Regions from separate parts of the Homo sapiens genome. Here region 2 is linked to region 1. The links come from fine-mapping of genetic effects on plasma protein levels. A gene starts in region 1. The other region holds a variant in brackets. All regions are shown on one strand. Distances are between the middles of the regions.

Region 1 (5,390 bases):
TCATAAGTGCAGCAACATCAAGTTTGCATTATCAAAAAAGTACTCTGATAATACATATACTTAAATTAATATTTTCTAATGAAGTCTCAATTTAATCATGATCAGATCTTAGAATATTTTAACTTCATTCCTAACTCTCTTTAATCTCGTTTGTTATTGTCTGGTATTTTTGTTCCTACTTATATTAAAAATGAAATAAAGTTACTATTAATTTTATTTTAAACATTATTATAACTAATACAGTCAACACATTTCTTTATTGTAACACATCTTCTGGGATTATTTTATTTTTTGACAAAGGACACGCTTAAGCAGTAATTTCAATGAGTCTATGGATAGCAATCTTACTACGTTCTCATAACTTTAACATATCTTTTTGTCATACTCACCCTTAATGGTTGGTTAGCTGGGTACAGAATTCCAGGTTGAAAGTTGTTTTCCTTTGCACTTTAAAGCTAGTGTTCCATACTACCGAGCCATAAAAAGGAATGAAATAATGGCATTCACAGCAACCTGGATGGAATTGGAGACTATTATTCTAAGTGAAGTAACTCAGGAATGGAAAACCAAACACTGATGTTTTCAGTCATATGTGGGAGTTATGAGGATGCAAAGGCACAAGAACGATCCACTGGACTTTGGGGACTCGGGCGAAAGGGTGGGGGGTGGCAGGAGATAAAAGGCTACACGTTGGGTATAGTATACACCGCTTGGATGATGGGTGCCCCAAAATCTCAGAAATCACCGCTAAAGAACTTATCATGTAACCAAACACCACCTGTTCCCCAAAAACCTATTGAAATTAAAAATAATAAATAAATAAATAAAGCTACTATTCGAAAGCTGCCTGGCTTCCACTTTATCTCTCCATTATGGTGCCATCCCCATCCTTGTCACTTTGAAGGTGATCATTGCTGATTTGGGGCTTTTAGGATTCTCACTTTGACCATTTCATGTATGAGGTGTTTATATGTAGACTTTTTTTTTTTAAATAAACTTACTATTCAGTGGACCTTTTTGATTCAGACAATTTTCTGGTCCTTTACATTCTTACATCTCAAAGGTTTATGTGAGTCCTATCAATGCCTTAATTTGGAGCTAGTCAATGTGAGGGTTCAGTAAGAGACCTCTTAAAAGTCCTATGAACATCTTGTTTTCTAATCTGTTCTACTCTCTTCTCTCTCATCTCAAGTCTTTAAATCTGGATAATGGCATGGGGATAGCAGACTAAGGGTTGGGATGGCTGCTGGAAACACAGGAGATCTATCTAATCACCCATTTTGTTAAAACTTTTCTGTCTTACATCTGGACCAGGACTTCTGAAATTGAAAGGCTTGGAGTTAACATCTTTGTACGCCATTGTGCCATGAAGCAATGATGATTCCCATCCAGCTGCCTAAAGAGAAAGAGGTTTGTGTCAAACATTCTGATGGGAGAGATTCTTTAAAATGTTCTTTGTGAACCATGAAAGCATTACTTTCTCATGTCCTACCATGAATTTACACAACTGATGCAAAAATCTAATAACAAAGGTTGAGTAGCATTTTCCAAACAACAGTGAGCTGGGAGCAAGGAAGCTGGCTTCTGATATCAGCTTCACCCACAACTGTCTGTGCATTAAACTAGTCACAATGTTTCTCTAGGCCTCAATTTCCTCACCAGTAGAACAAAAGAGTAAGATTTGATAACTACTATGGTCCCTTCCAGACTTAAAGTTTCCAGACATAAAGGTCCTTTACAGACTTAAATCTGTAGTTTAAAGTTGAGTCATCTCTGGCACCTACAACCTAACCCTTTGCCATCTATACTGGAAAAGAAAATCTTGTTACTCTTTTCAAATAGCCTATTTTTCAGTAGAACTGTATTTTGGCAAACACCTATATTTGGAGTCAGAAGGACAAGGTTCAGTGTCCAGGTCCACTGCTGACCAGTGTTGTGAACCTCGGAAGGTTTCTAATCTCTCTTAAGGTTGGGTTTCTTGAGTGTGTAATGGGGATATGTGTCCTATGCTGCTCACAAGGATTTTGTTGGCATCTTATTTGATGACTTCACTGAAAACCCGTTATTGTAACACACTCTGTTGATGTAAGCTATTTTGACATGATCATCCATGTTCTGCGGGAGAAGCTCAAATAGTAGATCTCTGAGGAAACTCACGCATGTTGAAGGAGTGGAGTCGGTGCTTTAGGAAGGAAAATCTGTGTGTGGGTCTCAAGTCTCACCGCATGGGTCATAACCTATTCCTGACCCTGACAGAAAATCCTTCTAGAAATAAAAGAGAAATAAAGGAAATCCACCATACCAAGGCATAAAAAGACAGCCATGAAAAAGTAACATAAGGGGAGAGGAAGATGGGCTTATAACAGATTACAGGATGTTGTCAGTTTTAATAACGTGATGTGAAGAAAAGATTCTGTTTGCACACAGGGAGAGGTTCTTTTCCTGGCTAGTCAAAGCACACCTTACGTACATTCTGAAGCCGTCTCTTATATGATTCATTTTTTTCACTGTAGATAAGACTTTTATGGATGGATTGTTTTTCTCAAATAATATTATCGCTTTGTGACTAAAGTAAAGATTATTAATTCCTGAGGCAAGAAGATATAAAAGCTCCAGAAACGTTGACTGGGACCACTGGAGACACTGAAGAAGGCAGGGGCCCTTAGAGTCTTGGTTGCCAAACAGGTAATCCTCCTCGCGGTTGATGATGGGGGACTTTCTTTAAACATCTGTTTTCCTCTGTCAGCTATTAGCCAGGCCAGAAATGACAAATTGTATTTCTAGTGAGGCTTGTCAGGCTTTCTGTTGCTGTGTTGTTTGATTTAAATTATTTACCTTCTTTTCTTCCTTCACTGCAAAGAGCATTGGCTTTGGTGTCAAGCTGTTGGGTTAAATCTTGGCTCTGCAGTCTGGTAGCTGGGAAACTTTAGAAAAGTTACTCAATCATAAGTGTCAGTGTCTTCATTTGTAACATGCATTCATGAGATCTACAGTGCAGGTTTTTTGTTTTTGTTTCTGTTTTTGTTTTTGTTTTTGTTTTTTTATGGAGTCTTGCTCTGTCTCCCAGGCTGGAGAGCAATGGTGCAATCTTGGCTCACTGCAACTTCTGCCTCCCAGGTTCAAGTGATTCTCCTGCCTCAGCCTCCTGAGTAGCTGTGATTACAGGCACTTGCCACCACGCCCAGCTAATTTTTGTATTTTTTAATAGAGACAGGGTTGTGCCATGTTGGCCAGGCTGGTCTTGAACTCCTGACCTCAGGTGATCCACCTGCCTCAGCCTCTCAAAGTGCTGGGATTTCAGCCATGAGCCACCACACCCGGCCCAGTGCAGCTTACTTATGAACATGACATGCAGACATTCAATGAATATCAGTTCACTAAAAATTATTCACAGATTAGTAAAAAAGATGCTGCCTCTCCCTTCCCCCAGATGGTCACCTTGACAGAGAAATTCTGTTTGCGTTTTAAAGGGGTTTGAGGACATTGAAAATACACTATTACTTTTGGAAGGAAAGTTTAGCAAAGTGCAAGGTTCACGCAATGATTTAAAAAGAAGTAAGGGGTGGGGAAGGTCACATCCACACTCTCCAAGCTTTGTCTCATTCTCAGTTAATGTTGCCTTAAAGTGTTCAGATGGACCCCAGAATTGATTTTCCAGAAAAGTCATCATTTACATTATTCTCTTTAAGCAATCCATTATTTGAGAGTTAGATTGTATATTCAGATTTTTTAATCATAAAGTATGATTAAATGTGAATTCAATGAATTAACTCATTTTAAGAATTATTTGGGAGGGAAATCCAGAACTCAGTTTCATACTTATGTTAAAACAAAGCCCAGACAGATGAAAATAGAACAGTGATAAATATTTTAACCTTATGTGACAGTAATGGCCAGTCTTTTGATATAAATTTAAAAATTATTTTTAAAAACATAAAAAATAACAATATTTTTGAAAATTTCAGAATGGCAAAAATTATAATAAGTAAGAGAAAAATACAAACTGAGAAATACTATTAGTAACACGTGAAAGGCAATAAACATACAAAAAAGATCTCACAAATAAACATACAAAAAAGATCTCACAAACAATGAAATAGAAAAATGTGCAAAACTGTAAAATGAAAATTCACCAAATACTAAAAGCAAATCATTATATAAAAAGATGTTCAACTTCATTAGTAATTATAAAATATTTTAAAACACTAAGGTTCTTCTTTAATATACCAAAATTAGCCAAAAACTTGACAAAATTAAGCATTCTCTGGGAGCTTAGGGAACCAATCCTTTTAGTGCCCTATTAATGAGGTAAATATCACAGCCCATACATTTTAACAAAGGGTATTAAAATGACAATGTGCATGTTGTGTGATGCCACAACCCTATATATGAGAATTTATACTAAAGAAAAAATAAAAAATGCATGAAAGTTATGTGAGTGCAAGACAATGTATTACAATTAATCTGTTTCTGAGAAACAAAACCAGGCTATAGGACTATATGATCTTATTTTTATAAAATTGTACACAGAGAGAGGTGCATAGAAAGATATCTGTAGGCTACTCACCAAATTATCTCCTGGAGATGGGATTTACTTCTTATTTTCTAGTTTTGCATTGATTTTCTAATAGCTCATGTGTTGTTTGCTAATGGGGAAAAGATAAAGCCATGTTCTTTATTTTTAAAAATGATGTCAACTAAGTGTAAAGGAAAGAGTGCTGATGGAGTCAGATCTGCTTATAGCTGGTGTCCATGAACAAATGACTTCATACTTACTGACCTCAGGTTTTCTCATCTGTAAAATGTGGGTATTGGACACTGTGCTCACGTTTAATTTTAACATTTAAAAATTCAATGTCGGAGCCATTCTATTGGATTTTCTTGACAACAGAATGCCCATATCCGTCTTACCTGTGAGGAAGCTTGCCTTGGGCGCCCTCTGCTGGCCCTCCTGAAGCTAACAGGGGCGAGTGCTCGGTGGTTTACAAATTGCCTCCATGCAGACTATGAAACTGTTCAGCCTGCTATAGTTAGATCTCTGGCACTGGCCCAGGAGGTCTTGCAGGTAAGAACAAAATCTCTTAAAATTTTCTAACCTGTACATCTAACTTGAGATTCCCTTCATTATAAAGTCTGGATTTAGCCAGGAAAATATTGTATTATTTTCCTCCATATGTATTAGTTGGCATCTAGATTCCTGGGTCCTTCTCACCTGTGCAAATGTGTTCAGATTTGCAGATCAAGGAGAACCCAGGAGTTTCAAAGAAGCGCTAGTAAGGTCTCTGAGATCCTTGCACTAGCTACATCCTCAGGGTAGGAGGAAGATGGCTTCCAGAAGCATGCGGCTGCTCCTATTGCTGAGCTGCCTGGCCAAAACAGGAGTCCTGGGT
Region 2 (5,390 bases), 1.7 Mb before region 1:
TGAAGACTTAACTGATTTTCTACGGATGAAGGTTTCAGTGTCCCAAGGCCCCATACCGTATCTGATTTTACTTTATTTTTGTTTGTTAAGCCTAACAGCTTCTGAGGAGCCACGTAGAGCTCAAGAAGCAAAAGCTACTGAGAGTAGATGCTATGTAAACTGCACAAGACGTTGACCTTTGTTAAATCCGAACACTGTTTAAGATAATGCTATCTCTTACCCACGAGGCTGTAGCTTGGAATATTCAGTGCTCTGAACCAAATTAAATAAATTAGTGCTTTATCCGGGAGGGGAGGAGAAATCTATGTTGTAACATTGAAACACATTGATTTGATTTCTCTCCAGGATGTTATAACGCATTAAAAGATATTTTAAATATTTTTCACGAGCTTTGTTTCCTCTCCCTTTATTTTTTGAAGTTCAGCTTTCACATTCGTAAATTCAAAATATATCAGCGTTAAAAAAAAAAAAAAGGATTGGAAATAACATAAGAGACAAATTTTGAAAATTGAACTATTTAACAAAACCTATGCTTATTCCAGGCAGGAATGGTTAATTTGTAATTGGTACGTATTACTAAAACATGTCCGTTTTTGTTTTAGTATTATATGCGCAAAACTTTGGAAACAGATGTAGATTCTTCAAGTTGGCAGTGAGAGAATATGAATAATACAATTCATTCAACCATATTATCTACCAGGTGCCAGTCATTGTGTTCAAAAAAGGCTAGATAGGCACGCATGCACGAATGCACGCATGCACACATGTACACACACACACACACAAATTAGACAACTATTTATCTGTGAATAACAAATCTTAGAAAAGCCTCTTCTCAGAAAATTATGGTCACAATGATTAAAATCTTTTGAATGAAACTTTAAAAGATGCCTTCAAGGACTAAATTGTATACACTGTTGACCCTCTGAGGGCATTGACTGGGCTTGCTAAACCCAAATTGCCTAATCAATGGCTGCTACATCACGCCTCTTTCTTTCTACCCTGCATCTGGTCTCAGGACTAACTGCACACGTTTCCCTATAATTAGGTAGAGTGTCAACACTAAGCACTTCTCACCTCAAACTAAACTCTGACTGACTTTTCCCAGTTAGTCTCATAAAATCCTTAGACACAGTATTCACCCGTCTTCAAATGAGCTGAACTTACTTAAACATTTTTTTTTCAGTTGAATCAGCCTATTTATGACAAGAAAAACTTACTTGCCCAAGTTGATGCTGATCCCCACTGTTGCTTTTGCTGTTAGAACAAAAAAGTTGAGAAAGAAATATAATTCTCATTTTGCTAAGCATTTTGAAAGTCTTTTCATCATTGTTCCTGTTCTATATTTAGATATTTGATATTTCCAGCCTTATGCACATTCCACTTTTTCAAATGCTCCATATCCTTTAAAACCAGCTTATCAACTGCCTTCCCTATATAACTTTTTCTGACCTTTCTGGTCCAAACTGACCTTTTCCTCCTTGGTGAAATAAATATTGCAACAAGCACTTTGATACTCTCATCATCATGAAGTGTATAAAGGGGGAATAAGGGTCCTTTGTTTTCTCCCCTTGAGTTGGGTGGGCTCTGTGACTCCCCTAACCTACTGAATATTGCTGAAGAGATATTGTGTGGGCTGGCCAGGCCTGGTGGCTCGCGCCTGTAATTCCAGCACTTTGGGAGGCTGAGGCAGGCAGATGACAAGGTCAGGAGCTCGAAACCAGCCTGGCCAATATGGTGAAACCCCATCTCTACTAAAAATGCAAAAAAAAAAAAAAAAAAAAATTAACTGGGCGTGGTGGCACATGCCTATAATCCCAGCTACTTGGGAAGCTAAGGCAGGAGAATTGCTTGAACCCAGGAGGCAGAGCTTGCGGTAAGCCAAGATTGCGCCACTGCACTCCAGCCAGGGCAACAGAGCAAAACTCTGTCTCAAAAAAAAAAAGAGAGAGCGAGAGAGAAAGATTGTGTGGGCTTTCTGTTCCAGACCACAAGAGCTTCCACTTCCTTTCTCTTGGAGACCTTGCTCATAGAAGACAGCTGCCTGGTGAAAAGTACTACGGTATTATCCTGAGACTGCCACACTGTGAGAAACCCAAACACCATGGAGGACCGCGTAAAAATAAAGTCAGATCAAGTAAAAAAGGAATATGCAGGTTATCATACATACAAAAGAATAGTTCACAAACCGGAAGACTTCAAATCAAAAGTAGTAAGAAACTTGACATGAGAGTTACAGTGCAGCTTATAAAGCATCAATGAGGAAGTGCATTGACCT[C/G]TATTGTGACTGGCTGTTAAAAACTTATATTCCTTTTTGGGCAAGTAGAGCTGTATAAGCTTATTTGTCTGTAACAAATTGGTTCAATTTCATCATACTAACAAGAAAGGAAAGCTTAACTTTTGTTAATGGTTAGAAATTGCATTTCAGGGAAGTCAGGATAGCTTAAATTTTGGTCATGTGGCTATGAGTGGTTAACCTAAGGATATACTGTGGCCTCCATTTTGATTATACTTTAACAAATCCCCCATACAGGACCTTAAATCATTGTTGATTGTTTCTTTTGCTGTGCAGAAGCTTTTTAGCCTGATTCAATCCCATTTGTCTATTCTTTCTTGGTTGCCTGTGCTTTAGAGGTCTTACACAAAGTATCATTGCTCAGACTAATGTCCTGGAACACTTCCCCAAAGTTTTCATCTAATTGTTTCATAGTCATAGTTCTAGGTCTTAGATTTAAACCTTTAATCCATTTTAATTTTATTTTTGTGTATGGTGAGATATAGGGGTCTGGTTTCATCCTTCTACATGTAATTACCTAGTTTTCCCAGCACCATTTATTAAACAGACACTCCTTTTCCTGTTGTATGCTCTTGGTGCTGTTGTTGAAGATGAGTTGGCTGTCAATGCATCGGTTTATTTCTGGGTTCTCTATTCTGTTTCATTGGTCTATGTGTCTGTTTTCTTGCCAGTTCTAGGCTAATTGGGTTACTATAGCTTTTTTTTTAATGTTTAATTTTTGTTTTAAGTTCCAGGGTACATGTGCAGAATATGCAGGTTTCTTACGTAGGTAAGTATGTGCCATGGTGGTTTGCTTCACAGATCATCCCATCACCTAGGTATTAAGCCCAGCATGCATTAGCTATTCTTCCTGATGCTCTCCTTCCTGCAACACCCCACCCCCAACAGGCCCAGTATGTGTCCATGCGGTCTCATCATTAAGCTCATTCAGCTGAGAATATGTGGTGTTTGGTTTTCTGTCCCTGCATTAGTTTGCTGAGGATAACAGCTTCCAGCTCCGTCTATGTCCCTACAAAGGATATGATCTTGTTCCTTTTTATGGCTGCATAGTATTCCATGGTGTATATGTACAACATTTTCTTTATCCAGTCTACCATTGATGGGCATTTGGATAGATTCCATGTCTTTACTATTGTGAATAGTTGGTTATTATATCTTTGCAGTAAATTTTGAAGCCAGGTAATGTGATGCCTCCAGCCTTTTTTTTTTTTTTTTCTTTTTTTGCTCCAAATTGCTTTGGGTCTTCAGGGTCTTTGTGGTTTCATATAAATTTTAGCATTTGTCCTATTTCTGTGAAGAATGGCATTGGTTTTTTAATAAGGATTGCATTAAATCTGTAAATTGCTTTGGATAGTATTGTTATTTTAGCAATATTAATTCTTCCAATCCATGACATAGAATATCCTTATTTAAATGTTTCGTTCAATTACTTTAATCAGTTTTTTATACTTATATTTGTATAGACCTATCAGTGTTGGTTCATAGATGTATATAATGGTTACATTTTCTTACTGAATTGACCTTTTAATCATTATGTAGTAAACTTCTTTATCCCTTTTTACAATCTTTGATTTGTAGTCTATTTCCTCTAATATAAGTATAGTTACTCCCACTCTTTTTTAGTTTCCAGTTGCATGCAATATCTTTTTTCACCCCTTCACTTTCAGTCTATCTATATGTTTAGAGGTGAAGTGGGTTTCTTATAGGCAGCATGTAGTTAGGTATTGTTTCTTTATCCATTCAGCCACCCTATGCCTTTTAATTGGAGAATCAAGTCCATGTAAATCCAGTGTTATTATTGATAAGTAGGGAATTGCTACTGCCGTTATGTTGCTTGTTTTCTGGTATTTTGAAACTCCTCTCTTCCTTTCTTCTTTTCTGACTCTCCTTTTGTGGTTAAGTGATTTTCTGTGGTAGTATGTTTTAATTTGCTGCTTTTTAATTTTTGTGAATCTATTATAGGTTTTTGCATTATGGTTACTATGAGGTTTACAAAAAACGTCTTGTAGATATAACAAGTTATTTTAAAGAGATGACAATTTATCTTAGATCACAAAGAATAGAAACAAACAAAGAAAAAACAAAACTTCCACATTTTAACTTCATTTCTCTCTCATTTTGAATTTTAATTGACTTTACATATCTTTATATTACCTATCTCTTAACAAGTTTCTGTAGCTATGATTGTTTTTGATAGATTTGCTTTTTGAGGCTTCATATTTGATTTATAAGTGGATTGCACACTACAATTATAGTATTAGAGTATTCTGAGTTTGTGTCCGGAATTTATTCCTTCTGGTGGGCTCTTGGTCTCGCTGACTTCAAGAATGAAGCTGCAGACCTCGTGGTGAGTGTTACAGCCCTTAAAGGTGGCACATACGGAGTTTGTTCCTTCTGGTGGGTTCATGGTCTCACTGACTTCAGGAATGAAGCCACAGACCCTCATGGTGTTACAGCTCATAAAGGTAGTGTAGACCCAAAGAGTGAGCAGCAGCAAGATTTATTATGAAGAATGAAAGAATAACGCTTCCACAGCATGGAAGGGGACCCAAGCAGGTTGCCACTACTGGCTCTGGTGGCCAGCTTTTATTCCCTTATTTGGCCCCACCCATGTCCTGCTGATTGGTCCATTTTACAGAGTGCTGATTGGTCCATTTTACAGAGTGCTGATTGGTTCATTTTTACAGAATGCTGACTGGTGTGTTTACAATCCTCTAGCTAGACACAGAGCTTTGGTGCGTTTACAATCCTCTAGCTAGACAGAAAAGTTCTCCAAGTCCCCACCTGACCCAGAAGCCCAGCTGGCTTCACCTGTCAATCCCCCCTCCAAATAGGACACCTCAACTGCTGTGGGAATTGGGCGATGACTACTTTAGCTACTTCCTGCTGGATAGGGGTGAAGAAGGGGGCCTGCAGTGGTAGCGTCCTCCAGAGGAGAACTCTCTAGGCCAGACAAAGGGCCAGTGAGTTGATCCAGGGGCCTCAGTAGAAGTTGTTAGTTGACCTCATTTAGGGTTCCATTTGTAAGACCTCTATAGCTTGATGGCATCCATCCTGGAGGTAACAAATTTGACAAGGAGGTTAAAAACACAGG

Direction of the effects. Alleles are on the strand shown, and positions count from the first base shown. The strength of an association depends on the size of the effect and on how common the allele is.
For the plasma level of the protein whose gene starts at base 2,634 in region 1, G is the high allele of the variant in region 2 and C is the other (weak association).

What was found. A credible set is the group of variants that fine-mapping cannot tell apart. PIP is the posterior inclusion probability: the model's chance that the variant is causal. The UK Biobank Pharma Proteomics Project read protein levels with antibody pairs (Olink). The fine-mapping took linkage between variants from a reference panel, not from the people measured, so its PIPs are less certain.
Region 2: its variant is the best candidate, but not a certain one, in a credible set for the plasma level of the REG4 protein (UK Biobank, PIP 0.90).

What each region holds. Positions count from the first base shown.
Region 1 is chr1:119,808,704-119,814,093 of GRCh38, reverse strand. REG4 (regenerating family member 4) reads left to right here and starts at 2,634. Exons shown (of 6, transcript NM_032044.4): 1 at 2,634-2,685; 2 at 5,231-5,390. The coding sequence starts at 5,325.
Region 2 is chr1:121,513,364-121,518,753 of GRCh38, reverse strand. No RefSeq gene overlaps it. Among named protein-coding and RNA genes, the nearest start is that of SRGAP2-AS1, 120 kb to the right of the region's middle. The variant C/G (reference allele first, on the strand shown) is at 2,279.